Regions from separate parts of the Homo sapiens genome. Here region 2 is linked to region 1. The links come from fine-mapping of genetic effects on gene expression. A gene starts in region 1. The other region holds a variant in brackets. All regions are shown on one strand. Distances are from middle to middle. Region 1 holds the start of RAPGEF2 (Rap guanine nucleotide exchange factor 2). Region 2 overlaps SPMIP2 (sperm microtubule inner protein 2).

Region 1 (16,100 bases):
CTACAATTGTATGTGAATCTACATTTATCTTAAGCTAAAAAGTTTAAGAAAGATAATGATTCCACTGAAGACTGGTCATTAAAAAATAAAATACATTTTAAAAGATAATGAGTCTTAACTCTAGAATGAATTTTCAGGAGAAATCAGATAATCACCATAGTACCATAAACCTCTCAGATCCACTGATTGTTGGCTTCTAAGAAAGTTACTATCAGACCTCCCCAGAATGACCTAATGATTAATTCTCGTTCAGTGTTCTCTACCTTTCTTCTCCGTTTTTATGTTGGGTGAAAACAAATACCATGAGCTAGAGAAGAACAGAAAGGTGCCAAGGGGCAGATATTACACTGTGTCGGTTTGTCAACTAAACTGCAAATGGCAGCGAAATGTACATTTTTATTCACTTATTTTAATTCTAAAGCTCCACAGTCCATTATTTTCAACCTGTGGAAGGCAAGCAATGAGAAACAACAGCCAGCGGAAGACAAGTTTAGTTCCAATGACAAAACAAAGTTCCTCTTCAAGTCACTGACACTAACTCTCCCAAAACACTTCTTATACATAATGGATATGAAAGCACAGAAGAGGTGGAGCCAGGACAACTTAAAATCCAAGGACCAAGTTGTTTCCTCCACAAAAACCAATAAACCCACCACCACCGCACCAAGGGTAAATTCTTTCACAGACTGGAGGGAAAAAGGAAACAGCTGAATACAGCAAGAAACACACGCTTCTTAAAATTCAGTAGGTAGTGGCGATTTTGCATGTGAAAACAAGGGTGGTTTTTTTTTTTCCTGAAAAGATAAAAATTCTAGAAGTCAAAATAATGCGGCAATAAACTTATTTTTCTTCCTACAATGACTGACATAATCACTTGAACATAGTTTTAACTATATAAATACATAAATATATATTCTAGCTCTGATAAAGTTACAAGATCAATTATATGTACTACAGATTGCTTCTCCTAATTTACCAACATCAATTAATTTATCTAAACAAAAAATGGTATAAAGGAGTAAAAAACTGTTCTCAAAGACTCAATGCCATCATTACATTGTGTCGTCACAAGTCAATTTTGAGTTTTTATATAAATAAGTTCATTTTTGCCTGCTTAAATTCAGAAGTTCTCCAACTCTTCCAAATGATGAAATGCTTGGAAATCACATTATCATTACAGATTAAGAAATATATTTAGTACAACTACATGATGGTGTTTTGGGTTTTGTTTTTTTGAGATGGGGTTTCGCTCTTGTTACCCAGGCTGGAGTGCAATGGCACAATCTCGGCTCACTGCAACCTCTGCCTCCAGGGTTCAAGTGATTCTCCTGTCTCAGTCTCCCCGAGTAGCTGGGAATACAGGCACCTGGCTAATTTTTTGTATTTTTAGTAGAGATAGGGTTTCACTATGTTGGCCAGGCTGGTGTTGAACTCCTGACCTCAAGTGATCCACCCGCCTCAGCCTCCTAAAGTGCTAGGATTAGAGGCATGAGCCACAGCACCTGGCCTAGTTTAACTATATGATTAACCAGATATTTCAAACTAGATTCCCAGAATGTACATGTAGTAGAAGACATTAATGTTTAAGGGAAAAAAATAGTGTGAGAAACCTTAAAAATCAAGAAAACTATATTCAACAACTTGGATTTTTTCCTATGAACTATGAAATATCCATGATCATCCTGTGCCATAATTAGGCTGCACTGGTATGATTCAAACACAGTTTTACTATAATGAGATATAAAACGTGCACACATTCAGCCAGCCTGTCCAGCAGATTCTACTCCTGCAATATTTCTAATCCATCACCACTGTGTAATTCAGCTTCCCAGCCATCTCAAGCCAGGAAAATGAACATCAGTCTTTAACAGAACTCTTGGTCTCCTCACTACCCTCACAAACCATGAGCTTCTAAATGCCAGTAATCATTCCTTACCCCCTCCTCAGTCCCCTGGTTCCCAGCACACTGAACAAAGAGCTGCACATGTTGTCTTACCAGGTGTGCTACTCATATGACAGTAGGTCAATCTGGAATACCACTTCAGGTCCACTAGTTCACTGGTAGGTGAATTCTTACTCCCCTACAACTCAATACATATTCATCTAGGAAGTCCACATCCTCTTCAGTGCTGTCATAGGATAGCTGTTACAGCACTCATGAATTACAATCTACTTATAACAATAGATTAGTGAGTTACTTGAGGGACACACATTTCATCTTTGAATTCCCAAGGCCTGTTAAATAATAGAAATTGTATAAAATATGCTATAAAGAGGACTAACATTAGGCATTACACTAAATAATGTACTTTCACTTAATCCACAAAACCTCAGACAGCTATTATCCATTTTACCGACGAGGAAATTGTTACCAAAAATGGAGTGAAGAGAAGGAATACCCCATAAAATACGGATTATCAAGGACCAACGATTTTCAGTGGTTTCCATATCTCCTAAGTCTAAATCAAATTTACCTTTCTTTTAAATAGAAACGGGGCCTTGCTATGATGCCCAGGCTGGTCTTGAACACCTGGGCTTCAAGAGATCCTCCCACCTCAGCCTCCCAAAGTGCTGGGATTACAGGTATGTGTCACCACTCCTGGCCAAAGTTACTTCCATATAAAATTTACAAAGAAGGAATACTTTTTTTCTCATTAAGTTTTCATATGAATCAAGCAAAATCAGAGTTTTTATTTCTAGAAGGTTATCATATCATTATTTCGGATAGTCCATTTATATCTGAGGCGCATCCCATTATAATTTTATGCAACTTGAATTTCAAATTATCACCAATGGACCAGGTGCAGTGGTTCACACCTGTAATCCCAGCACTTTGGGAGGCTGAAGCAGGAGGATCACTTCTGCCCAGGACTTCATGACCAGTCTAGGCAACAAAGCGAGACCCTCATCTCTACAAAAAATTTTTTAAATTAGCCAGGCACAGTGACATAAGCCTGTAGACCCAGTTACTCGAGGCTGACGCAGGAGGATCATTTGAGTCTGGGAGATAGAGGCTGCAGTGAGCCCGGGCAACAAAGCAAGACCCTATTCCAAATATATATATCTCGCTCTCTTACCAAACATTGTCTATCGCCATACCATCCTGAAAGCACCCCATCTCATCAAATATCACCAAAGAAAGACCTTATTGTGATTCTTTAAATCATCCAAAATCTACCCAAATAAGTTTTTTTCAGGTCCAAAGTAAAATTTAAATGAAAAAATGCAGTGAATTTTCTTATGACGCAAACAATATTTTCTTTCAAAACTGAGCTTTAGAATAACACTGCATCCTTCCTTTCTTAAAAACAGTGAGATTAAATGATAGTGATAAGAAGTTATAACTAGTTTTGTTTTTATTTTATGTTCCTTCTTGAGAGAAAAACCAAGGTGGTCATCTTCTCCTTAAAAAAAAAAAAAAAAAAAAAAAGAAAGTTCTGTGAAATTCCAGCATTTGGGAATGACTGCGACTGCATTAAACGAGTATCTGCATAAAGCACTGCAGTTGGAGAGATTTTCATTTTGAACCTTAGCCAAGATATGCAAAGCTAATTATGGAACTGTTAATTACTAAATGTTTAAAGGGTTATTTGAAGGCGACTAAGGTTCTATCAATATTGCAAGGAATGTTAATATTTTTATCATAAATTTAATTCCTCATTTGTTCAAAGTCACATACCAATAGAGTTTGAAGCTAATATTTCAGTTATAAATGTATTTCTGTACCAAGAAATTCAAATGTCATTGTTATGAAATCTAACTGCTTGTGGCCAATCATTTCTTTATGAGACATGCTTTTTAAATGGCATACAGATAGTTTAGTTGTATTCTATGAACAAAAACTATTTAAGAAACAAATATTACTAGAGCCCCAAAATGGGCTAAAATATAATGAGAGTATAAGCTGACAAATATGAGTCTGCTTATAAGCAATGGTAAAAAGAAACTCAAATGGAAAATTTAACTATAACAGACACAATTCTTCCATTAGATTTGAAAGTTAAATATTTGTCAGAGATATTCTTTCATGCCGTTTCTCATAATTTACAGTTCTCTGAGCTAAAGTTACTTTTTTCAGCCCTCTCATTATGACTCACGATGAATTCTACCAAGTACTTAGCAATGAATTAAGTCCTGTATTCTTTATAACACATCAATGAGTTAGTACTTATATCAAAAGTTGTAATAGCCCAAAAAAAAGTAAGATTATTAAATAGGAGGAGATGGGGTGGGGGTTATTTTACACATAACATTTTTAACAGTAACTTTTACAACTAGCTAAAAATGCATTACATTAGGTCTTTAAAGAGAAGAAACAGTTTTGCAATAGATGTTTCACCTGAAAAACTGAAAATGGTATGCATTTAGACACTCTACAGAAGCAATTTCAAAGGGCCTGAACTCAACAAGTTAACAAAATGGTTTAGAAAAACCATTTTATTGTATAAGCCTTGGGGGATAAAAGCTGTTTGTAATTTATTTACATCTTTTACTTCACCAAATTGCCTTGGTGACCAAGCTTCTCATTTAAGTGATTAAAGACATAAACCCAAATGGTTAAATAAAGCAATTACTTAAGAGTCCTGTTTTTCAACAGAGGTGCACTGAAAAATATCAGTAGAATGTTTTCAGGGCTCATTATTTTCAAGGAAGTTTGTTATTTAGAATACAATGCCCCATTGACTAGAACTCAGCCAGGTTTCCAGACACACAATATGGGACACACATTGGATTAGAGTTTTCCTCCTCCTCTCACAATATCAGGTGAAATAGTGATAGTCTCTTGAAACTGAGTATGTATAACCTGGCTAAAACTTAGATGATAATTTTTTTGGTATTTCTCCTTACTATTCCCCCTCTCTAAAGATATAACTGAAATGCGTTTCCATTGTGCAGGTGGACATGAAAAGCTCCCAATTTATGAAAGTTCCTGGTACTCTTCCCACCCCTAGATTCTCTTCTAGCCAACTTCTTAGGTTACACCAATGACATCAGGATTACTTCTAGGCAATTGATTGACCTAAATACAAAACTATGTTTTCACGGAGCTTGGGAAATGAATGAGGCCAGCAAGCCTTTAAAAAACAAACAGAAATGAACAGCAGGAAAAAAAATTACATATGTTCCCCAATTCTTTTCCTTTTGCCTATAACGAGAATCATGCAAACTCCTTTATCGAGTCTATCCTCAGAAACAGAAGGAAGCAAAACAGCAAAACTTTCCTAATTCCTGTCCTTCTGTTCATGATATCAAGCTTATTTAACATGGTTGCTTTTCTAATATTATAAAATTCGAACTCACAAACATTTATAAGACAAGGCTGTATGGAAAATCTTCCAGCGTTCCATTAACAAAGCATTCTTAACATAAAAAGTACCTTCTACAAAAACTTTTTTTTTTATAATTTTTGAGTAAATTTCAAATTTTTATAAGATTACTCCTGGCCAGTCAGGTAAAGATGGAAAACGTTCACATTTCGAACAACTTTCTCTTGAAAAGAAATAAACGTGGGGATTTGTAGTAATAACCAAACGAACATCAAAGTTAATAGGGCTGACACTTAGGAATGTTTGAAATGTTTGGTAGGTTTCCTTATGTTTACTTTTTCTATGAAGGTTTGGTAGGGCAAATGGGCTGCCTTCCGACTGTCAATAAAGCTTTCATGTCGTGGGTTAGTAGTAGCTGGCCCAGGCCAAGTTCTGTGTTGGGTCAGTTTTTACTCTATTCTACACAACTGGCAGGGGAACAGGAAAGTTTAACAGTTCATTTATTTGGCACAGTGGGCCCACAGTCACAGTGGAGGTTTTGTCTCTTCTAGTCTTGTTTGGTGACCCGCCCCCCAACCTGATAGTAGGTTTTAGTCATTGTTATTCTTCTAACTAATCAACCAAATGCACCACTTCCCCCTTCTCTAATTTCCACCAAAGGCCTCTGACATCATTTTCTGACCAGCCTTGCTAGGTTCTAATATTCTCAGCATGCGTAATTTCACTTGGCACTTAAAACAATATTCTTGAAAGGAAATGAAATATCTCACTGAAATCTGCTTTTCCTTCACACTGAGACAGGGAATGTGCATTTTCAGATGCAGAAGACTGATCCAACTGACCATTTTAAAACAAATAGATGAGAAAGGCATAGGAAAGGCAGCGTGTGCAACACCAAGAGAAGAACAAGATCAATGCAGGACATTCCTTGTTGGGATAAAAATAGTCTTTTAGAATGGGAACTTTCTGGAGACAGATAAATTTTCTTGTAAAATTACAGCCATCTTCCACACGTTTGATAAATATGTGCAATCTATCCATGATCTCCCAGATGTGACAGCTCCATCAAGGAAAATGAAAAATCAAAAACGGTACCAGGTGCCACTCTTGGGGCTTGTCCAAAGGCAGCCAGGGGAAGAGTCTATTTTATTATGCTCTCCCCACAGTAAATAATAATCAACATCAGAGAAGGAGAGCATTTGGATTTGAACAGATGGCATCCAACATCTAACAAGCGAAGCAACACTTTCAAGCATTAGATCCTAAATGTCTGATGGTCCCAAGGATCAGGAGGGCTTATTTGTCTTAAGAGGGTTGGCAGGCAGGATCTCCTATAGTCACCATCCCAACGCTTAGGAATATGCGTCATTATCCAGTCAGCAACTAAAGGCGGAGAAAATTAAGCTACCACATTTTTATAAAATTTCCCCCTCTCCAGTAAAACTTGAGACAACCAAATCCAACCCTATCAGCCGCTATAAGTAAGAGAAGAGTAAGCCTGCAGGTAAACAAATGTATAAAGGTTAACAAACTTATCTAATTTTGACAAGGTTGTGCAACACCAAAAGAATCCGCAGGGTGCCCTTCCCGAGGGTGTACTGGAACATGCCTGCTCTGCAGCTATGTCTGCAATTTAAACTAAAAGCACTAACTTAGCTATTCAACTTTTTTTCCCTTCAATTGAAAGCAGTATCCTTTAAAAAATAAAAGCAAAACAGTAAACATACAAACACCTCAATGTTTTACTGAAGGTCAGCATGGATTTGTCTTTAGCACAACCGTACAGGTTTCCTCCTATACCTTTCAAACACCACTGAACTCCAAGGGTCACTTGCAAGGGGAGGAACGGATCTGGAGTCAGAGGGAGCAAGAGTCGCTGCCCGAGGGGAGATGAGACTCCATCCCCTGAGATTCAGAGGCCACGGAGGGCGGCTGGGGAGAGGGAAAGCTAGAGAATTCACACATTCACACACATACACACACACACACACACTCTCTCTCTCTCTCTCTCTGTCTCTCCCTCTCTCTCTCTCTCTCTCTCTCTCTCTCTCTCTCTCGGCTGGGCAACATAGTGGGAAAGGTCAGTCATGGGGAGGGAAGAGTTAAGGAGCAGAATGTCAAGGAGAGGGAAAAATAAAACCAGGATAGGCGGAGTAAAAGACTCGGAGGTGGGATGCCTTTGGAAGTTGGGGGTCCTGATGCAAGAAGTGGGGTGCTCGGGGCGAACTGTGTCAGGAAGGAGGTGGGGGGACAGGGGAAGACGCAGCCTGCGAGGCAGAAATCCGGCCAAGGGCAGGCGGCCGCCGCGTTCTCACCTGGGGGGTCCTTTCGGGGGGATTCTTCATCACCGCCTGGCGGAAGCTGTTATCTACGTAGGACGCCATCTCCCCTCTGGGAGCGGGCCGGGGCCGCTCCGCACCCTGGCCGGCCTCCTCCCGGCCCAGCGCCGCTGCTGCCTCCGCCCTGCGCGCTGCGCCCGCCCGCCCGCCCGCGACTAATCAGCCAAACCGCGGCGGCGGCGGCGCGGGGCCCGCGGGGGGGCGGCTCGGCTGGGCCCGGCGGCCGAGAGCGCGGTACAGGCGCGAGGGGCTGGACGCAGCCGGGAGGGTCGCGGCGCCCCTAGGCTGCCGTGCGATGCGGCCCGCAGGCGGAACTCCCCTTCCTCCTCCTCCTCCTCTTCCTCGCCGCTCCGCCGGCTTCCTCCGGCCCTGGCTCGACACGCCTCCCCGGCTCCACTCGGGGGACAGTGGCGGCTCCTCCTGGCCCCAGCGGGCCCGAGTTATTTTTAGGGAGGTACGAGTGGCAGTGGGGAGGGCTGTGGGCAGGCGGAGCCTCCTCCCCCACGGCGCTGAGGGTCGCCCCCTCCTCTCAGGGGCTTGCGCAGCCGCCGCCCAGGGGTCTCCGAGAATCACTTGGATCTTCCGCGTCCCCAGTCCTCGGGCGCCTCGGCCGCCGGTCGGGAGGACGGACCAGGTGGGTCTGGCTCAGGTCCGGGCGCTGCGAAGCCCGATCGCCTCGGCCGCCGCTCCTGGTCTCTGTCTACTGGGCTCGGCCGTCCCTCCCGACTGCTGCTGCATCCCCTCGGGCCGCCCAGCCGCCGCCGCCGCCGCCTCTGCTGCTCGGGCCGCCGCTGTGGGCTCCGCCGCCGCCGCCTCCCCCCATCAGCGCGCCCGGAGCGGAGCTGCCCCGGCGCCGGCGCCGCCGCGGCCAGAGCACCCGGCCCGGGCTGCAGCCCTCCGGCCCAGTCGCTCTCGGCAACTTTGTTCCTCGTCTGCGCGGGGCGGAGGAGGGGGAAGAGGGGGCCGCGGACAGCCCGGGTTCGGACTCCCGGCGCGGGCGTCCGAGGGCCGAAAGCCGAGAGCCGCGCACAGCCCCCTCGGAGAGAGTGTTTGGGAAGCGGCGATTCCCCTCCTCTTCCTCCGCCTCTTCCTCCTCCTGCGCCTTCTCCGGCCGCCGGAGCCGCTCCTCAGGGAGGAAGCGGCCTCTGGGGCTTGTTGCTTTGTGCTGCAACCATGGTGAGGAATGAGTGACAGCGTGGGGGCGAGTCGGCGGCCGCCGCATCATCGGGGGGCGGGGCAGCCCCGTCGCGCCGGGTCCCGCCTCCCCGCTCCCCGCCCGCCAGCGGCCGCGCCCTCGCGTCTGAGCGGCACCTTCGGCGGCGCCCAGGTGAGCAGCGCTCTGGCCGCAAGTGGGTCGCGGAGCCCTCGGCCGGGCTGTCGGGTCCCGCGCGCGGCCTGGACCCGAAGAGGGGGCGCAAGTCCTGGTGCCCCGGAGAGAAGCGCAGGGCTTTCCTCACGCAGTGTCCCCCACTGTCTCACGCCGCGCCCCCTCCCCACACCCGACGCGCCCTACTAGGAGACCCAGCCGCGTCGGGTCGCTGCTCCCCGCCCGCTCCTGGCGCCACGCCGCCGCCCAGGGGCTGAAAGCTAACCTTGGGCAAAAGACCGGCCCACCAGCCCGGGCTGTACTGGGCATTCTTTTTGAGCCCAAGAGTTGCGTCCGAGTTGCTTCTGTGGCGATAAATCCTCTTAGGATTTATTTTGCTTATTTGTAATTTGCTGCACCCTCCCCTGCTTTCCAAGCCCACTCTGGCACCTCAGACAGTAAAATGACCACGAAATTAGGCAGAGAGGTTTCAACACCAGACCCACTACCACCCCTAGACCAACAAACACTCCAGATTTAAAGTTGATCACTCCTTAGCGACAGACCAGGATGGCAAGTTCTGTGACATAATCAGAAACATTTATTGGTAGGTCTGGCTTTGCCTTGGACAGAACAAGCCTCCTCCTCTAGATGCTCAAATTTCCAAACCGGACCCACATGGTGCAGAAACAATACCTCGTCCTTCAAGATGTCACCGCTCCTGCTGATTCCCTCAGCTCCCCCCCACTCCTTGCCCCGGCCACGTAGAGGTGTGTTAAGGTCAGCCCAAGCATCGGGGACCACTCTGCTGTTCTGGTCCCAGGGATTTATTTTTGTTTGCCCCCACCCCCCACAAGTTCTTATTTTGATATCTATAGACACAATGAGTTTTATGTATGAGCTACTGCGTTGAACTTTTCAAACATGATTTTCAACATCTAGTTTAAACACTTGGAATAGATTGTCAGCTAACATTTTGGGGTTCCTTAAGTCACCTGTGTGCACTAAACAGCTTGTGTGACTTCCTAGCAAAGGGACTGTCCCTGCCCAACCTTGTGAAAGGGAATCTGAGTTACAAATTGTATCTGTAGACCTTTTTATATTACTCTTGCTGGAACTGCTTCTCTATATTTCTCTTTCACCTCTTAGTTGAGCGCCAACATCAAATTCTCTATGACATAGGCCACTACCTTGAAAGCAAAGGAACATGAATAAGTGCCAATACAGCTCTGAAAAAAGGAGAGAGGCAGATAAAAGAATTCAAACCCAATGAAGTGAAAAAATATAACTGACATCTCCACCTGGTGTCTAATAGACATCTCAGAATTCACATGTGCAAACCAGGCTCCAGATCTCCTGTCTCAGACACCCACAGCCTTCCCCATCCTCTGTTAATCACATCTACACCATTCTCACTTCCTGGGTGAAAACGTTGACTTCCTTGACTCCTTTCTTTCTGTTATACCTCAAAAGTGTCAGTAAAAATCGTCAGCTCAACCTCCAGAATGCCATATCTGAACTCTAACCTTTATCTACCACTTCTACTGCCATGACCCTGGTGCAATCCAGCATCATGTCTGGCCAGCACTTTGTCATAACCACCCACCTGGTCCCCCTCTTTCTAACCTTGCTTGCCATACAGTTCATTTCCAACACAGCAGCCAAAGTGTGAATTCTTTTCACTCCTTCTCAAATCATTCCTCTGCTTAGCTCCTCATACCACTCAAGGTAAAAGCCAAAGTCTTACCATGGCCTGAATATCCTATGGACCTTTATCTCTCTGACCTCTTCTACTATTCTGTTCCCAAGCACATTAGCCTCCATGTTGTTTCTGAAACAGCAAATTCCAGTCTCATGACCTTTCCATCTGCTGTTCCCTCTACTGCCTGGATTATCTCTCCCCCTCTCCCCACCCCACTTGCACCCACAAAAACAAAAAACAAAAAGAAAAATGCACACACACAACAACCAAAATATAGAATGTTGTTCCTCATTGTCATCATATCTTCATTTGAATGTCACCTTCCCTGTAACTCCATACACTCTGGTTATCTTCGTCGCTTTACTTACCACCTAACATACTGTATATTGTACAGGTGCTTGCCCACTTAGGATGGGGTTACATCCTGAGAAACCATTGTAAGTCGCAAATATTGTAAGTCAGAAATGCATTTAATACCCTGATAAACCCATTATAAAGTGGAAAAATCGAAAGTCAATTTATTGACCATCGTAAATTGAGAACCATCTATACTTATTTATTTTATTTATTGTTTTATCCCTCCACTGTAATGTAAGCTTCTAAGTCAGGGATGTTTGTCCCTTTTATTTACTGCTATATCCTCAACACAAGACAGGCAGCCAACAAATAGGTATTAAATGGATACATGAAGTAGTTCATGTTACCTTGTATTTGTATGAGATTTTTACATACATTATCTCACTTGTGTCCCTGGTTGCGGGGAGAAAACTGGGAGAGGAAACTTAACCTCTCTGAGCCTGTTTTCTGTTTTATAAAAAGAGAGTACAAATTGAATAGTCTGGCCAGGCAAAGTGGCTTACACCTGTAATCCCAGCACTTTGGGAGGCTGAACCAGGAGGATAGCTTGAGGCCAGGAGTTCAAGACCAGCCTGGTCAACATAGCAAGACCACTGGCTGCACAAAAACTTAAAAAAAAAAAAGGAGCGGGGCATGGTGGGGTGCACTTGCAGTCCTAGCTACTCAGGAGGCTGAGGTGGGAGGTTATCTTGAGCCCCGGAGTTCAAGGTTGCAGTGAGCTATGATCACACCATGGCACTCCAGCCTGGGTAACAGAGCAAGACCCTGTCACAAAAAAAGAAAAAGTTGCATACCCTGAAGATTTGTGACGATCCAAGATAATACATGCAAAGTGCCTTGCATAGTGGTTTAACAACAGTATATACTCAATAAATGGTAGTTATATTTAAGATTATTCTCATCATTGCAACTCTCTGAGGCTAGTGGGACAGTGTTATCTTATTTACAGATGAAGAACTGACACTAAAATAGGCTACATGACTTGTCCTAGTTCCCGGACTGCCTTTAACTTTAGAAAGTTCTGGAGCCAGCTAACAAATGGGGATCCATATACTCTATCATAAATACTAAAAGCTACAAATTAACTGGGGGAGTACTGAGTACTACTGCAGGGAGTACTGGTATCTGGTCTGCAACTGGAATCCCCTTTTCTTTCCATCTCAGCTTCATCCTATCCCATGGAAAGGCTCACACATAAGAGGACAACCCAGCTAGTGCGGTGGCTCATGCCTGTACTAATTCCAGTACTTTGGGAGGCCGAGGTGGGCAGATCGCGAGGTCAGGAGTTCCAGACCAGCCTGACCAATATGGTGAAACCCTGTCTCCACTAAAAATACAAGAATTAGCCTGGCGTGGTGGCGTGTGCCTATAGTCCCAGTTATTCAGGAGGCTGAGGCAGAAAATTTGCTTTTACCTGGGAGGTGGAGGTTGCTTGCAGTTAGCTGAGATCAAGCCACTGCACTCCAGCCTGGGTGACAGAGTGAGACTCCATCTCAAAAAAAAAAAAAAAAGGACAAGGACAACCCAGCCTACACATCTAAGTGATATCACACCCCTCAAAAAAGCCACCCCTTGGTGATTCCTCGGGCCAGGGGCCAGCCTTGGAAGATGAGGTCTGGAAGTGGCAAGGCAGTCAGGACCAGGGTTCCAGGTGCTCAGAGAGTATGGAACTCCTTGCCCCATGGGGAGGGGGGATGCTAGAGGGGACCTTCTACACCAGACAGGAATGCCTCTCTGCCAGATCTCACAGCAAGAGTTAGGAATTCCAGTTGCACACCCAAGTCTTTTTTCTCTGTGTGCTCTACTGTAACACTGAATTACATCAATCACCTCAGGTAAGACATAATAGTATGTCTTATCCACCAACAAAATGACTAACTCACTGTCAACTTCTAAGCTATCATTTAACTTCAATTAAAGCTAATTTTCACACTATGTATAACCTACTTATCTACATATGTCAATAATGCATATCACCACTCAGCATCTAGGACATCAGATACTTGGCATGCATTGCTGTTTTATTAACATTTGAGCACCAGTAATGTGCTAGGCACAACCTGGAAGACAGAATTAGACAAAGATCTGCCACTCTGCCAATTAGTCTAAACCAAACTGTGTCAGCAAACCATAATCAAAGTAAGCTATCTATTATGCTGCCTCATAAAGGCAAGTGTAAAAATGAGAGTTTCTTTGTTCTGTTTCTACTACCATCATATTATCTAGAAAATCACTGGGGGATGGGAAGAGAGACAGAGCACTGGGTTTTAAGTTCAGAAATACTTTTCAAGTTCTGGCCTTAATACCATTCTACTTGTAACTTAAAAAGCTTTGATCTTTCCAACTGTAAAATCTAATAGATCCCTAAATATATCGTGTGGGTTAGGCATTTAGGGTCATCTTTAAAAGTGAATTAAAATATTTGTTTTAAATTCCCGTGAGTCCAGCTATACCCAAGATTAGGGAGATTTTACATACATAGTCATTTTGTTTTAAAAACACGTCAAGCCCTTACTGCTCCATCAATAAATATTTATTGTGTGCTTTGCTGTGTGCCAGGTACTGATCTCCATGCCTGGAATACCAGTAATGAATAAGACAAATATGGCTCCTTCCCTGGCCTCCTGGGAGCTTGTTCCATGTGCCAAGCATTGGTTTAATTTACTCACCTCTCCTATAAGGAGGGTAAGGATAATAGAAAGGATCCAGGAAACTGCCCTCCTCTGCTAAGAGCTTCCTCTCCTTACTGCTTTCTCCAGTGGTTACAACCCTCTCAAGGCAAGATTTCCAGCTGAGAGAAGTTGGATTCTGTTAAAGACATTCCTCACACCACTCCCCTTTCCCTAGAAACATTTTTTTAAGCGTTGGTTTGCAATTACTTTTACCCTTGTAGTCAAGTCAGTAAGAATCTCAGGAGGGTGGAAGGGTGTTGTTTACACATTGTGTCATTCTCAGTGAGCACACTCCACTAGGAAATATTGTGTTCACCTACAAGTAGCATTCCAGAGAGTCCCTGATGGGGAGTACAATTACAGACATTCAGGGAGAGATACAGTGAGTTTATAGGATGGATCTCATGATGAAATGTATCAGAAGCACAGGTAGAGTATCAGACTATTCATTTTGATTGTACAGGAATCATAACATTCAGAGTTGAGGATGCTGCCGCAGAACTACACTAACATAGAGGTCAGGTAGATGTTTAGATATTTTGGAACTGATTCAGAAAAAGGAAACCATCTCCCCCTGATTTATCAATATTATTACCTAGGTTCTGTCTGGACATAATATTAAATAAAAATAAAAAATATACACACTAACGAAACTGTTCTATTCAGTTACACTATTGTATCCCTCACACTGACATAACTACTTTCTTTCATTGATTTGTTTGCACTTGAAATATAGGGCCAGTGGCAGAGAACAACCTTTGTATTTCCCTTATTGTGAGAAAGCTGATGCTGACATTTCTAAAAGGAAATGCATTGTTAAACTTCTAATCTACCATCAATTCCTTCTATTGTTATGTAGTATTTGGCATTTATTTTTATAAATTGGCCCATGGGATGATGGTCCAGAATCATTTGGCCAGCTTTAAGGGGAGTAAAGGAGTTTAGGTAAGAGATACAGATTAAGTTTTTTGTTTTTTTTTAAGCCTAAAAGCAGGTAAAATTAAGAACTTTATTTTAAACTCTAACAATATAAATGCACTACATAATCCAAGAGTATTTAATGCATAGATTTTTTTAGAGCTTACACTAGATATCATGAATGCTCAAGTTAGTAAATCAAAGAGAAAAAAACCTCCCATTTCCAACATGCAAAGTTAACCCATTGAGATAATTCTGTCATAATAGAGCATTGTACAAGATGGTATCTGGGTTTTTCCCGTTCTGTTAAGGTGATTATACACAACTGAAATTACATCCATAAGCAAACCGGTGTGCAGTGCAGAATCTGTAAAAGTGTTCCAAAAAAGTAAAACAGCTACACTTGGTGCCAACTCTGTTCTCCAGGTAGTATTCAAGGGTAAATGTAAGTGTGCTATAGTACAGCTGTCGACCATAGCAGTGTCAAAATCAGAAAAGGTCATTTGAGAAAACAAAACAAAACAGTATTCTTGGCCAGCTATGATTTTTTAAATGCCAATACTAATAATCATTCTGAAGTCATGATTATTTAATATTTGGTAAACCCAAGACTAGTGCTAGGCACCATATGTACATAAACAAAGACAAAGTGCTTATGTGTTGAGCTTACAAATCTAAATTAGGCAAAGGAAGTGAAGGGCAAACAAGGGCATGGGAAACACACACTGAGGACCTGTTTAGAAAATGAGGCTTTTTTTTAATTGTTATTTTATTATTATTATTATTGTTATTTTTTGAGATGGAGTCTCGCTCTGTCGCCAGGCTGGAGTGCAGTGGCGCGATCTCGGCTCACTGCAACCTCTGGCTCCTGGGTTCAAGTGATTTTCCTGCCTCAGCCTCCTGAGTAGCTGGGACTACAGGCGCACACCACCACGCCCAGCTAATTTTTGTATTTTTAGTAGAGACAGGGCTTCACCATGTTGGCCAGGATGGTCTCGATCTCTTGACTTCATGATCCGCCTGCCTCAGCCTCCCAAAGTACTAGGATTACAGGCATGAGCCACCGCGCCCAGCCAGATTGTTATTTTTGTTTTAGCTATCAGAAAGTCCGTTATCTTGCAAAAAAAAAAAAAATTAAGGAGGAAAATCAAAGGAGAAAAGCATATTGTCTTTTTGGGAGTTTAAAGAGGAAGGCTTAAATATGAAATGGTGACATGTATCAAGTTAGAGACCTGAAGGAAGAAAGCACAAGTAAATGGCAAAAAGAGAAACTGTCAGCATTGGATGGAATACAATACAGGGACTAAGTGAAGATAATGTATGAGACATGGCTCAGAAGACAGAACTGTCCAAGCCCTTGAGAGACATATCACAATTGGTCCTGGCCATCTTCTGTGTTTTTCTTCTTTTCTTTTTTTGAGACGGAGTCTCGCTCTGTCACCCAGGCTGGAGTGCAGTGGCGCTATCTCAGCTCACTGCAAGCTCCGCCTCCCCGGTTCACGCCATTCTCCTGCCTCAGCCTCCCGACTAGCTGGGACT
Region 2 (16,100 bases), 170 kb after region 1:
GGATCACCAGTGACAAGTAGAGGTAGATGTATGAAGCTGGATGGAAATACTGTGCTGAAGAGCTCTTTCTGCCATCATTTTTAGGTTGTATTTGAAAATGTGTGAGTGGATGAGAAGGGAAAAGACCACAGGAATAAGGGCAGAATTGTAGGAAATTCAAACTCTGATTGTAAAAAGAAGAGCCATGAAAGAAGATACAGCAGAAGCAGAGGAGACCCTGGGGGGCTGAGGTTCACCGTGAAATAAGACGTCAAATAAGAAATAAGATGTCTACTTTCTTCAGTAGACAGCCAGTCTGTCTCACCAAGACAGAGACTTGGTGAGAAGAGAACAACTAGAACAATTTAGGGGAAGAGGGAGGGGAAGGCAAAGAGGGATGGGTGGGAGGTATGAATGGGAGGTGAAGTGGAATAAACCAAAACATGCCATGGTTTTTGAAAAATTTGGATAAGGAAGAAAATGTGGCCAGGTGCGTTGGCTCACACCTGTAATCCCAGCACTTTGGGAGGCCAAGGTGGTTGCATCACAAGGTCAGGGGATTGAGACCATCCTGGCCAACATGGTGAAACCCTGTCTCTACTAAAAATACAAAAATTAGCCAGGCATGGTGGCGGGCGCCTGTAGTCCCAGCTACTTGGGAGGCTGAGGCAGAACAATCACTTGAACCCAGGAGGTGGAGGTTGCGGTGAGCCGAGATCACACCACTGCACTCCAGCCTGGCGACAGAGCGAGACTGTCTCAAAAAAAAAAAAAAAAAAGAAAATGTCAATAGTAACTAGAGGCAGATGAAGGGCCAAGTGTAGGATTTTTTTAGGATTCAAGAAGCTTGATCTAGAGAAGGGCTTACTGCGTGGAGCACTGTTCTGGGGTCAGCAGTGATTCATTCCCAGAGACTAAAAAGGAGACAGGATTGGCTTGCATATGTAGGTAGGAATGCACTTATACATGTAAGTGTGGGGTATGGGGTTATGGTGGTAGTTGATGAAGTTTAAACCTGAAGGCCTTGTTCTCCATGGAGTCTTCTTTTTTGGCTATTAAAAAAAATGGTGGTAAAAGATATATAACAAATTTTACTGTTTTAATCATTTTAATTGTATAATTCAGTGGTCTATGAAGTCTTGTAAAAAAATTCTGTCCTATAGAGAACTGATGAGAGTGATGGGAATGAGAAGTGAGCAGGGGTCTTGAGGAAACAAAGAAGGCCCACTTGAAGTTAGAGGCCAGGTGTTTGTATCAGCAAGGTTATCCAATTGTTCTGTAAAAGAGTTAAGCCACCATGATATAGGATCCAAGAAAAATTGGAATTGGGGCAACTGGCTAACCTTTTGGAAAAAGTAAAATTATAGCTATACCTCATAGCATGTAATAAAATTAATTCCAGATGAACTAAGCAATTAACTGCTTTAAAGGCCTGATATTAAAACACAGAATAAAATATACAGAAACATTTATATTATGTTTATAGAGTCTGAGGGTACAAAAGGCAGACTGCAGCGGTAAGCATTAAGTTGATGTTTTGTATGTTATCACTTTATATTTAAATGTTGACTCAAACTTATGTTTCTTAAGAGCAGCTCATGTTTATTCTTTGTAATTCTAATTCAATTTTCAAACAGCATCACTAATGTTTTTTATTCCATCAAACTATGGACAAGTATAGTACCAAGAAAATAAAACGTAATTCCTGCCCTAAAAGAGCTTATCATCTGGTTGGTGGGGAGAATACATAAATAGGTAATTTTACCTGAGTATATTAGGATGCAGTGATAGAAATTTTGAGTTAACCAACATTTAGGGATTACCTATTTGTTTTTTGTTTTGTTTTGTTTCTTTGTTTTTTGAGACAGAGTCTTGCTCTGTGGTCCAGGCTGGAGTGCAGTGGTGCAATCTTGGCTCACTGCAACCTCCACCTCCCGGGTTCAAGTGACTCTCGTGCCTCAGCTTCTCAAGTAGCTGGGATTACAGGCACCTCCCCACCACCACCATGCCTGGCTAATTTTTGAATTTTTAGTAGAGATGGGGTTTCATCATGTTAGCCAGGCTGGTTTCGAACTCCTGACCCTCAAGTGATCCGCCTGCCTTGGCCTCCCAAAGTGCTGGGATTACAGGTGTGAGCCACAGTGTCCAGCCAGGATTACCTATTTGTGCTGATACAATGCTCGATGCTGGGTTTGGATACTTAACACAGTTTAACAACTGAGTGCAAAGCCTGTTAACATCAGGGAGGATTTTAGAGGGTGCAGTGGAAACACATATCCGGAAGCCTAACTTCGAACAGGGATCAGGAAGGCTCAATAAGTTCACCTGAGCTTGAAGTGTTGGTAGGAGTTAGCTTCTAGAAGTGCTGGACTTAGATTCCAAGATGCTGCTATTTTAGAAATGGAACGTCACACATTCAGATGAATTACCTTGGAGCACAATTACCACACATTTGACAATAAAAACTTTTCATTTCTAGCTTCTACAGCAATATGTAAAGATGGCAGGGTTTATGCAGTATGCTGTGGCTTGTTTCTGTCTAGCAGCCTAAAGGCTAACTCATTAAAATTCAAGGATGAATTACATGGTGGGTGGCAGAACAAATGTTTTCTTCACTGAGCAGAGCTAGGATCTTCAAGACAGTTTCTACCAGAACCAAAGTCACTCTTTGCAGCTGTTCGGTAAGACATGATTCAAGTATCACCTCCTCCAAATCTACCAGAACACCACCATCTCTTAATCTGCATTAGAACCATATGGTAATGACAGCAACAAGAAAAAAAAAATAGAGCAATGCTGGTTCCACCCTTGATTTTTCTTTGGAACCAGGTACATTTCTTACCTAGTTATAAATTAATTTAAATATTACTTTCTTTAAAAAGCCACATGTTTCTAGTTGATAGTTTAATTCACAGAGTAGAGTTATTCCAAGAGATTTAAAGCACAATAATTTGAGCAGAAATCTCCTTTCTGTTTTCTGAGACAGGATCTTCCTCTGTCACCCAGCCTAGAGTACAGTGATGTGATCATAGCTCACAGCAGCCTTGAACTCCTGGGCTCAAACAATCCTCTTGCCACAGCCTCCCAAGTAGCTGAGATTACAGGGAGGTACCACCACAGCCAGCTAATTTTTAAAATTTTTTTGTAGATACAGAGTCTCTTTATGTTTCCCAGGCTTGTCTGGAACTCCTGGCCTCAAGCAATCCTCCTACCTCAACCACCCAGTGAGTATAAATCTCTAATGTGGTATATCCAGAGAACAAAAAGAACAGCAGAAAGCTTGGTTGAGGCATTCATAGTGTTACTCAGATTCTGTTGTGGGTATATTGTGGGATAAATGATCAATCATATAATGTTCTTATTCAATCATTCCTGGTTTGATTGAGTACCAGCATTCTTGGAGTGGGAGAGAGAAAACACAGATGTTAACATAAAATACCTGAAAAACAAACCCTGAATTTGACTGGAAGATTATATATGTCTATTTGTCTATCTGTACGTGTGCATTTGCATTTTTTTTTCTGGCGCTATTCTCTGTAAAGGCCTAGACATAGAGATCAACTCAGTAGCTGTGATGTCTCCTAGTACTTAGATTCTTCAAATACCTTTCCTCCTAAAAGAAATTGGTGCTTCTTGAAGAAATGGCTGATTCTGGATCTGGAGAAGGAAATGAAAAAGATGAACCTAGAACATCTTGCCATATCAGGTAGCAAGAAAGCCATCAGAGACTACTGCAGTCCTGTCTAAGGGACTTAGGAGCCAAACTTGGAGAGATTTTTGCTGGCCAAAAAAACTGGACAACTTGAACAATAAGGGCAATAGCTGCAATGGATCAATATACATCATACATACATATCCACATATGTATCCATGAACATTCACAAGTCCATACTGTCACTTTAGGAAAAACACAACAAACTGGTTACATTATTTTAAAACCAACTCATTATTTTGAAAACGGTAAATAAGAGGAAAGAAACATTAATTCCACCTTTGCAATATGTTAGTGCATAACCAAATAGAAAATAAAATGACTTCAAAAAGAATCAAGGTTATTCAGCTAAAAAAAAAAAAAAAAGAAGGAACAACAGAATTAGGACATCACCACTTTGGAAACCCTGATGAATCAATGAATCTAGGGACTGAAAATCCAGGGCTGCCAAAACCACAAAAAGAGTGACGCTGAGATATTTAGTGCATCTTGGTGGAAAAACACACCACCACCCAAGATGAATTGTTTCCTTGGGTTGAATTGTTTCCTTCTCCAAGTTCATATGGTGAATTTCGAACTCCCACTACCTCAGAATGTGACTGTATATGGAGATAGGGCCTTTAAAGAGGTAATTAAGTTAAAATGAGGTCATTGTGGTGGGCCCTAATCCCTCCTAATTGTGGGATCATAAGAAAAGGAAATTTGGACAAGTACAGAGGGAGAACCATGTAAAGACACAGGGAGAAGATGGCCATCTACAAGCCAAAGAGAGAGCCGTCAGGAGAAATCAACACTGCAGACTCCTTGATCTGGGACTTCTAGCCTCAAGAATTGTAAGAAAATTCATTTCTGTTGTTTAAGCCACCCTGTCTGTGATACTTGGTTATGGCAGCCCTAACAAACTAATACAGTAGTCTTGCCCCCTGAAAACCCAACCTGATGCAGATCAATCCTCTAAAGCCAACTGACAATGTATAGGAAATAAGATGACCTCGGAACATGCTAAATGACATCGTGGAGATGTTATCAGAAAAGTGTACTGTGAAAAATTTTATAGAATAAAGGATCCTTTTGTTTTTTTGTTTTTGAGACAGAGTCTTGCTCTGTCACCCAGGCTGGAGTGCAGTGGCACAATCTTGGCTCACGTCTCGAACTCCTGACCTCAGGTGATCCACTCATCTCGGCCTCCGAAAGTTCTGGGATTACAGGTGTGAGCCACCACACCCGGCCCCAGTTTTTTTCAACAAATAAGAGGAGAAGAGGGAGAAGAAAGAGAAGAGAAGCAAAGAGATGAGAGAGAACCTATGAATTAAAAGAAAGTTAACCAATTGCAAGGTGTGGGACTTACTTGGATTGTCCTAACAGACAAACTGTTAAAAATTCCTAACATGACACAAATCAGACTTTTGAATACTGAATATTTGGTCAAAATTTTTAAATTTTTAGGAGAAATGTATGTTAAGAAAGAATTTTCATATTTTCGAGAGTCATATCAAAAGATATTATGGGGTGGTGTGGAGATTAGTAAGTAGGATAGAGATGAAATAAGATTGTCTATAAATTGATATTTTTTGAAGTTGAATGATTAGTTCTATGGATCTTTATACTATTTTGTCTTTTTTGTGTATATTTAAAATTTGCAAAGTAACTAAAATAAGTTGGATCAACTTTATTCTTAGTTAATACATGTCAAGATTTACCATCTGGATAGATAAACTTATCCAAAACTAAACTGAGTCAATACTGCTATAGTCTCCCAAAGAACCTTCACTCCAATTGCTACCGATCAGCTCACAGAAACACTGTCCTCCTTCCTTCCCTGTGTTGCCCTCTGATGTATAAATTAGCAAGTGATGCTGAGGAAGCACCAGCGTGAAGAGAAACTGGACTTGGTTTAGTTTCAGAAGCCCCAAACTGTTGGAATTGGAAGACCTTCCTGAATGTCTTATAAAATCTCCCACCTCTCTGGGAACACCGGGAATTATATTCAACACTTCTAATAGATGACCCTAGATGATCTAATAGGCCACATTTCTGGTAAGATTTTGGACAGCTGCCTCTGAGGCTGTGTGCAGGAGAAAACCTGATGTGCTCATTACTCCATATAAATCATTTAAAAATACTGAATGAAAATCAATAAACACTGTGTATTTTTACATCATGGACAAACTCTTGGCAACAGTAACCTTTTGCAGTATGTTGTTCTGCCCAGGAAGACAACATGCTTGATTTAGAGTGCATGACTGGTGTAACTAGAAGCCCAGCTGGAGCCCATAAGGGCAACCAGCAATGTCCTGGTGACGTCACTATGGCAAGGATGGCATTTTTCACATTCTGGAGCTTGGGGAAGGCAATCTGGCAAATTAGCGAGTAAGTGTTCACTTAGCATAATGTGAGACCTTTCTTGTTTCAATTAATTCTTTAGAATAGTGGTAGAATATTTAACAAGCCCTTCAAGTAGAGTGGTTGTATTCCTATGAAATCAAAGCAATAAATCAAACCAAAACAGTCACAACCTGAGGTTCGAAGCATATGGTGCATGTAATTTGGCTGAACTGCATAATCTTTTTGATGCTTCCCTTATAGAGGAGAGCCCTAGAGAGTGGGCTTTTCCTTCTTAAAGGAAAAATAAATATGTTTACACTTTGTTACCTCTTTCTGCCTTTTAAAAATGGCATTTAAGCAATATTCATCTGTCTGAAATAGGTACACTGGCAATTTGGGATGACGTCTCTTGTGCTTTCTTAAATACTTCTTCGGGGAGCGATTTCATTTTGATCCCCAGACAGCATGGGTATCATACTAATGTGGGATCATCCAATTTTGTTTAGAAATTTAAATAATTCTTACCATTTTTGCAAAATAGTTTTGTCCATAGATACGCAGACCCATTTCATAAATTCATGTTTGAATTGTTAATGATGTAAAACAGATCATAAACATTTTTGCTGTCTTGGGAGGGAGGAAACTCCTAAGCAAGAATAAAAGATTTAAGCTGGTATAAAAAATTATCTTTCATATTTCATCATGAACAACTGATTATCCTTGGAATTTATTGTCATCAAATAACCTCTTAGTACCCATTTCACTCATGCACAGGTATAGCCGTAAATCAGTTATTGTTTATGCATATACTAATGTTTGTGCCTTTTGCCATGAGTCTATATTACATAGACTGTTCACTTTCTTTGTGGGTTCCCAGAGGACCTCATACATGGCTGAACACATAGTCAGTGTGTGCTCAGTAAACTCTGCCCAAGACAATGTCTAAAGACAGAAGAAACAGATGGAAAGATTCTGGATCCTTAAGGCTGCTAAGTGCCTCAAATTGTCTTGATTAAACAGTTGGATGTTACTTTGGACCTTTATTTTAAACAGGATGCCACCACTCAGAAGTAGAACCTCGATTTTCCCAGCATCCTGAAGACTGCACATAAAACAAGTAAGCATGACCCATGCCTTCTAGATAAATCTCTATAAGCTCCTGTGGATTTTGATCGCTAAAATTTTGCTTCTTTTTATAAACCCCTTTCGGTTGCACTTACCAAGAACCTCCCAGGCAACAATTATCCTTGGGTAAACTCCATTAACGTTTAAATTTTTCTCTATTAATAATTGCTAAATATGGTTGTCTAGTCATTCGTTCATCCAAATACAAAATATAAAGATAACTTCCTGTTTTGAATCATCTCCATGACAACTGTTGATCCAGTATCAAATAAGTGTTCTCCCAGAGGATTAAGATGAAATGTTTTGCAAACAAGATACAACATTATCATGAATGATTCTATGGCGGCAGGGAGAAAAGGAAGATTAATGTCTGAGAAATAAGGTTGGATCAGCTCAATGATGATACGTCTAAAACGGACCTGTAGCATTGGTTTCCCCCGTTCCTCCTTTGTGGTATTACCCCTTCAAGATATGCTCTCTCGAGAAGGGGTGGGTGATCATGCCTTATAGTACCTCTCCTAGCTGTGTGCACTGTTAGCCTAACCTCCAGTTTTGGAATAAAAAGGAGCAGAGAAGGACAAAAGGGAGTGTTTTCTCAGGCAGCCAGTGTCACTGAAATACCACATATGTCTGTGTCAGCAGTAACACCCACCCCACCTATGTGGAAAGCCAATGTAGCGAGGAAAATATGATTAAATACATCTTTAAAGCCCTAATTGTGATTCCTTGGAAGATTCTGTAGGTGTGGACTACACCATCACACACAAAAAAGATCTTTAAAGAGCAGAGGTCTTGTTTTCCTGTGAATCTTCCAAAGGGAAAATAACAGGGAAAGAAGGCTTGTTCTCCCAGAAAGCACAGATCCTGCCAAATGGTTTCTAAATGTGTTTCTCAAAAATTTCCATGTGCCATCAATGGCTTTTTAGTACTTTTGGAAATGGAAAGAGCAGAAATCGGTACCACTGTGAGAAAGCAAACATTGAAGGAAACCAGCTTGTTGAGGAAACAGGTCGTGCTTTTAAGTCACGGCACAGATATGGCACCGGTCCTCTTCACAAGTTTGAAATACATGAATACACAGAGTTACA[T/C]CACGTTCTGATGCTGCAAGGAAAATGTTGAAGTCCTAAAGGGAAGTTTCCACATTATTTCTCTATGTGAAACTCAAGTGAATGACTGTTTCTGCGGTTTATATTAGGCAACTAGACTGACTCCCTGGAACTCAAACAAACAGTGATTTTCTTTCTTTAATTTTGGAATCCAAAAAGACATTAATTTTGCCACTTATTAGAATTATTTTTAGTCAACCAGAGAATCTCCAGAAGGTGTGGGTCAGAATGCCAAAGAGAAGAATATAAGGTTTGTTTCTGGGCAAGACTGAAGCTGGGTGGTCAGTTATCCAGAATAACCATCTGTTTTGATCCATTTAAGTCAACATGTTTATTCAAGCTCCTTATTTTGCCAAAATACTGAGAGTTCATTGAATTGTTTGGTCGTGAATCAAAATGGCTGACATGGATGCTACTGTGGGCCCAGCTCAAGTCACAAAAAGGTGGAAGACCAAAGACCCAGCTCAGCAGCAGCCCCGGCGGGTCCCTTCTTCAGCCCTCTGGAGTGTTTTCTCTGGCTAAAGTGTCAAAATTAAAGTGGAGTTTGTCCTATTGGTTTTAGACATTATATAAGTAAGGCACAGCCAGTCCTTTCCTCACTGAAGGCTGAAGCCTATTTTATCTTCTTACCCCATTTCCCAGACGTTCAGGCCGCTAGGAGAATCTTGGTCATTTCTCAAATAACCAACAATGTTTAAGGAAAATTTAAATATGTTTTGTTATTTAAAATCAGTTCTACCACACTCCAAACCCTTTATCGTTGTGCAGTCACAATTTCCGTCACCAGAGACAGACACTTTTTTTTTGTATCATTAGAGAAACAAGCACAATTGACTGAAAATGTGATCTATGTCAGGAATTCGGCTAGATGCTGAAGACACAAAGACGTAAGGAATGAATCCTTCCCTTTATCACAGATTTACTGAGGGAAGGAGTCAACATGACTACCCCAAGTGTCGTGGGTATGAACAATGGTCTGTGGGGAAGACAGGAGGGAATCATTGTGTCCCAGTGTTGCAGGTGGGTAGACACTGAGGCATGCTTTGTAGGAGAGGTAACACTTGAGCTGCATTTTCAAGGCTGTGTGGGAAATTAAAAGAAGAGTGTGGAGGTGGAGGCAGGAAAGGAATTCCAGCCATATGGGATTGCATAAGCCAAAGCATGGAAGGGTGAACCATCATGATGTCTTAAGGGAATGACTGGTTGTCTGGTATGGCGAAAACACAGGGTATTGTTTTAAAAGTTTGGTGGGAAGCAAAGATGGAATTGCAGTATAGGGAAAAAGATTGCATAGTGTTTTAAACTCCACACTAAAGATTTTGTGCTTAATTCTAATAGGCAATGACCTGTTCTTTTAAATTCTTTAAGGAAGTGATATAATCAAATCCATGTGTTAGAAAGAATACCTGATATATAATAGGTATAGAAAACTGTTTGCTGAATGAATGGAGCTGAGGAAGGAGAGACCGAGGGAGACAAGTTACGTGATATTGCAATAATCCTGATGATGGGAGCCTGAATTAGAGAGCTGGGGGTGGTGAGATAGCTTAAAGAAAGACACAATGAGACTTGGCAACCAACTAAATGTGGAGGGATGGAGGAGAAGTAAAAATGAAAGCTAATTCTGATATGTCTCTCTTGGGTGGCAGAGTATATGGTTATATCATTGACCAAAATAGGGAACACAAGAAGGAGAGAGTATTTTGAGGGGTGACAGGTGGGTAGGGAAAGCAGAGAGATGGGAAGATAAGTTGAGAGGCAGCATTCTATAATAATAATAATACGGCTAACACGTATAAATTTTTACTATGGGTCAGATACCATTTTAAATGCTTTATAAGTATTAACTCATTTAACCCTCATAAGTAGTATTACATTATTGTTCCTATTTTATTTTATTTTATTTTTGAGACTGAGTCTGGCTCTGTCACCCACGCTGGAGTGCAGTGGCACGATCTTGGCTCACTGCAACCTCCACCTCCTGGGTTCAAGCAATTCTTATGCCTCAGCCTCCCGAGTAGCTGGGGTTATAGGCATCCACCACCACGCCCAGCTAACCTTTTGTATTTTTAGTAGAGATGGGGTTTCACCTGTTTGGCCAGGCTTGTCTCAAACTTCTGACCTCAAGTGATCCACCTGTCTAGGCCTCCCAAAGTGCTGGGATTACGGGTGTGAGCCACCACACCTGACCTGTTCCTATTTTATAGATGAGATAATTGCATAGGTTTGGAAGGCAACAACTCTGAGTTCAAGTCCTAGCTTTTCTGCTTTTTAGCAGTCTGATCTTGAGTATGTAAAAAATGGGTAATAATACCTATTATAAGAAATTATTAGAAAGATGAGAGATAATACATATAAACCAACTGGCATAGTGTCTGTAACCTCATATGTCTCAATACGTACTAGAAAGTATTACCAGCTATGAGATGTCCAGTAAAAAGTCAGGCATTTGTGTCTAGATTGTAAGAACTGAAAGTAAAAAATTTAAACATCAATATGTTGATGTTGGTTTGATTCTTGGATATAAATACTATTCCCTGGCCTGGAGGTGAGTGGCAGTGTACAAAGAGATAAGAATTGAGGGTAGAATTCTAGAAAATACCAATGGTAAAGGAACAGAAAGAATAAAAGATTCTTCCAAAAGAAATATAGATGAAATAATATTAGAGGTAGAAGGAGAGACATAAAAAAGTTTTGCAAGTCCAAGAGGAAAGGGTTTCTAAGAAGGCAATGTCAACAATCACAGATGCTTCTGAGAAGCCATATATGAAAGTCTGAAAAGAGATGATTTTATCTGACAGAAAAGAGCTTGCTGTTGGCTGGGGTAAGAACCATTACAATGAAGTAATGGCAACCCAAGGCACAACTTCAGCATATGGAGGAGGGGCAAATGAAGAAGTGGAAACAAAAGGAAAAGGCAATTTTTCCTTTAAATAGTGAGTCTCTGTTTCATTTCACAATGATACAGTTTGGAAAGCACTTCAGGAATGGTGAACTAAGGACCTCCAAAAATATGCTCCTCTAAAAAAGAAACAAGAACACTGGCAAAAATCATCAAAATCACCTTTTTGAAAACACTGGAGGCACGTTTTCACATTTGCAATCCCAGCACTTTGGGAGGCCAAGGCAGGCGGATCACTTGAGGTCAGGAGTTTAAGACCAACATGGTGAAACACTGTCTCTACTAAAAATACAAAAATTAGCAGGGCGTGGTAGTGTGTGCCTGTAATCCCAGCTACTTGGGAGGCTGAGGCAGGAGAATCGCTTGAACCCAGAAGATGGAGGTTGCAGTGAGCCGAGATTGCGCCATTGCACTCCAGACTGGGTGACAGAGCGAGACTCTGTAATTAACAAATAAATAAATAAAGTATAAACAAGAAACCACTGGGAATAAACCAAATGCTTGCAGCAATTCTTGGAGCATTCATTTGAGAAACATGGCTGAATCTTTGTAATAACAATGATTTTTGTGCCATTTGAAATTGTACTATTCCCATTCCTCTCTTCCTAGCTCCATGGCAGCCTTGAAAACCAACAGCCTCACATCCATGGAAACTATGAACATCAGCAGCTTACCAGTCACTGGAAGTTGAACACAGATTTGAAGCTCTTTGAGAAGCCCTGTACCCAAAGAAATGTCATTTTTGACTTGTCTTGAAATCCCCTGAAAAGCTTCATTCTCAGGGCTTGTTTTTGTTTGACCTGACTCTCTGTGTGCTCTACCCCATGGACATTTGCCAAAAGCAAAAAATTAAGACACCCAAAGAAATGAGAAATGGCCCATACACAAGGTGAAAAAAACAGTCGATAGAAACTATCTCCAAGGAAACTGAAACATTGGATTTACCAGACAAAAACTATATTTTTATTTATTCTGTATGTATGTATGTATGTATGTTTTGACACAGAGTCTCACTCTGTCACCCAGGCTGAAGAGCAGTGGTACGATCTTGGCTCACTGCAACCTCTGCCTCCTGGGTTCAAGCAATTCTCCTGCCTCAGCTGATCCCTAAGTAGCTGGGATTACAGGTTCCCACCTCTATGCCTGGCTAACTTTTGTATTTTTCATAGAGATGGGGTTTTGCCATGTTGGTCAGGCTGGTGTCTAATTTCTGACCTCAAGTGATCCACCCGGCTTTGACATACAATTCTTGAAATTGTTTAGTGTTAAGAATTTTAATTGTCTTCCTTAAAAGAACACTGCATAAACAGATGTATTATTTATTTACGCAAAGAAAAACAAATTGTACCCGGTATTTCTACCTGAAGCCAGGCTGGTCTTGAACTCCTGGCCTCAATCTATCCACCCACCTCAGCCTCCCAAAGTGCTGGAATTACAGGTGTGAGCCACCATGCTCGGCTCAGACAAAGACTTTAAATCAGCTGTTATAAATATGTTCAAAGCACTAAAGGAAATTGTATCTAAAGAGTTAAAGTATGAGAATAATGTTTTATCAAGCAGAGGGTATCAATAAAAAGATAGCAATTATTTTAAAAATTCTGGAGTTGCTGGATGCAGTGGCTCACACCTGTAATACCAGCACTTTGGGAGGCCAAGGTGGGCAGATCACTTGAGGTCAAGAGTTTGAGACCAGCCTGGCCAACATGGTGAAACCCCATCCCTACTGAAAATACAAATGTTAGCTGGGTGTGCTGGCATGCACCTGTAGTCTCAGCTACTTGGGAGACTGAGGTACAAGAATCACCTGAGTCTGGGAGGTGGAGGTTGTGGTGAGATTGTACCACAGCTCTCCAGCCTGGGCAAAAGAGCCAGACCCTGTCTCAATAATAATAATGATGATGATAATTTCTGGGCTGGGCATGGTGGCTCATGCCTATTATCCCAGTACTTTGGGAGACCGAGGCAGGTGGATCACCTGAGGTCAAGAGTTCAAGACCAGCCTGGCCAACATCATGAAACCGCGTCTCTACTAAAATTACAAAATTACAAAAATTAGCTGGGCATAGTGACAGTGCCTCTAGTCCCAGCTGCTTGGGAGGCTGAGGCACAAGAATTGCTTGAACCCAGGAGGCAGAGGTTGCAGTGAGCCGAGATCATGCCACTGCATTCCAGCCTGGGTGACAGAATGAGACCACATCTAAAAATAAAATTCTGGAGTTGAGAAGTATAATAAAAAATAAAGAATTTACTAAAATTTACTAGAGGAGCTCAAGAGTAGATTTGTGCTGTCAAAAAGTAATCAGTGAACTTGAATATAGATCAATTGAGATTATCCACTCTGACAGAAAAGAAAAAAAAAATGAAGAAAAATGAACAGAGCCTCTGAGACTGTGGGACACCATCAAGTGTGCCAACATAGCAAAATGGTAATCCCAGAAGTAAATGAGAGAGACAAGGGAAGAAAGAATATATGAAGAAATAATAGCCAAAACTTCCCACATTTGATGAAAAACAGTAATCTATATATTCAAGAGGTTTAACAAACTCTGAGTAAGATAAGCTCAAAGATTCATCACAGTCAAACTGTTAAAAGGTAAAGACAGAGAATCTGGAGAGTAGAAAATGAAAAATGACTATCATATACAACAGATCCTTAGTAAAGGCTGGGCACAGTGACTCATGACTCTAATCCCAGTGTTTTGGGAGGCCAACACAGAAAGATTGCTTGAGGCCAGGCCTGGCCAGGAGTTTGAGAACAGCCTGGGCAATGTAGTCAGATCTCATCTCTATCCAAATAAAAATAAAAAATTTAGCTGGGCATGGTAGTGCATGCCTGTAGTCCTAAATTCTCAGGAGGCTGAGACAGAAGGATCACTGGAGTCCAGGAGTTCAAAGCTGCAGTGAGCTCTGATCCCACCACTACACTCCTGGGTGACAGAATCTCTTAAAAAAAAAAAAAAGCCAGGCATTACAGGCTCATGCCTGTAATCGCAGCACTTTGGGAGGCTGATATGGGTGGATCCCTTGAGCCCAGGAGTTTGAGACCAGCCTGGCAACATGATGAAATCCTGTCTCTATAAGAAATACAAAAAATAGGCAAAGTCGTGTGCACCTGTAGTCCCAGCAACTTGGGAGGCTGTGGTGGGGAGGATTGCTTGAGCTTGGAAAGTCGAGGCTTCACTGAGCTGTGATTGTACCACTGCACTCCAGCCTAGGTGATAGAGCAAGACTCTTTCAACTCAGAGCGAGTGAGAGAGAGAGAGAGAGAGAGAGAGACTGAGATCCTCAATAAGATTAACATGAATTATCAGCAGAAACCATGGAAGCCAGAAGGCAGGAGGATGACATATTCAAAGTGCTAAAAGACAGACTGTCAGCCAAGAATTCTATGTATGCAGAAATTTGTAGTATGCAGGAATACTATGCTTTTATGCCTCGAAAATGAAAGAGAAAGTAAGATATTCTCAGATATACAAAAATTGAGAATTTTTTTCACTAGCAGACCTGCCCTGCAAGAAATGCTAAAGAGAATATTTCAGGCTAAAATGAAAGGACCATACACATGAACTCAAATCCACATGAAGAAATAAAGGGCACTGGTAACTACATAGGTATATTATAAAGTCAGTATTAATATATTTTTGATTTGTAACTTCTCTTTTCTCCTATGTGATTTAAAAGATAACTGCATAAAACAATAATTATAGAATTATATTGATAGGCATATAATTTAGAAAAATGTAATTTGTCTAAAACTAATAGCACAAAGGAGGAAGGAGGAAATGGAGTTATACTGAAGCAAAGTTTTTCATATGATGGAAATTAAGTTGGTATTAATCCTAACTAGATTATTTTGAAATAAGATATTAATGATAATCCCCAGACCAGCCACTAAGAAAGTAACTCAAAAATGCATACTAAAAGATACAACAAGGGAATTAAAATAGTGTACTATTTAAATGAAATGCAAGGCTAAAATGATAGAAAATATCTACCACAAAAGCAAGCATGAAGAAATAGAGAAACAAAAAATATTTAAGACTTATAGAAAACAAATAGCAAAATAACAGACATAAATCCTACCAAATCAATGACTATGACCACATTAAATGTAAATGGACTAAACAATCCAATCAAATGCCAGAGATTGTGCTGGGTATGTTGGCTTATGCCTGTAATCCCAACACTTTGAGAGGCCAAGGCAGGAAGACTGCTTGGGGCCAGGAGCGTGGGACCAGCCTGGGCAATAGAGCAAGGCCCCATCTCTACAAAAAGAATTTTTTTAAGTAACCACGCATGATGACATGCACCTGTAGTCCTAACTACTCAGGAGGTTGAGGTGGGAGGATCACTTGAGCCCAGGAAGTTGAGGCTGCAGTTAGCCAAGATCATACTGTGTCCGGAATTGGTGGGTTCTTTGTCTCACTGACTTCAAGAATGAAGCCACGGACGCTCGGACGCTCGCAGTGAGTGTTACAGCTCTTAAGGTGGCGCGTCTGGAGTTTGTTCCTTCTGATGTTCTGATGCGTTCAGAGTTTCTTCCTTCCGGTGGGATCGTGGTCTCGCTGGCTCAGGAGTGAAGCTGCAGCCCTTCGCGGTGACTGTTAACAGCTCTTAAAGCAGCACGTCTGGTGTTGTTTGTTCCTCCCGGTGGGCTCGTGGTCTCGCTGGCTTCAGGAGTGAAGCCGCAGACCTTAGCGGTGTTACAGCTCATAAAAGCAGCGTGGACCCAAAGACTGAGCAGTAGCAAGATTTATTGCAAAAAGCAAAAGAACAAAGCTTCCACTGTGTGGAAGGGTACCCGAGCGGGTTGCCACTGCTGGCTCTGGCAGCCTGCATTTATTTTCTTATCTGGCCCCACCCACATCCTGCTGCTTGGTAGAGCTGAGTGGTCTGTTTTGACAGGGCGCTGATTGGTGCGTTTACAATCCCTGAGCTAGACATAAAGGTT

Evidence for each region.
Region 2: its variant is fine-mapped to the expression of RAPGEF2 in whole blood (TOPMed, PIP above 0.99).

The regions. Positions count from the first base shown.
Region 1 is chr4:159,095,714-159,111,813 of GRCh38, reverse strand. It overlaps RAPGEF2 (Rap guanine nucleotide exchange factor 2), which reads right to left and starts at 8,735. Exons shown (of 30, transcript NM_001394067.2): 1 at 7,583-8,735. The coding sequence starts at 7,651. RefSeq lists silencers at 7,596-8,015, 7,983-8,277, 8,026-8,315, 8,356-8,575, 8,706-9,245 and an enhancer at 8,894-9,585.
Region 2 is chr4:158,928,517-158,944,616 of GRCh38, reverse strand. All of the region lies in intron 3 of SPMIP2 (sperm microtubule inner protein 2), which reads left to right. Among named protein-coding and RNA genes, the nearest start is that of SPMIP2, 99 kb to the left of the region's middle. The variant T/C (reference allele first, on the strand shown) is at 8,230.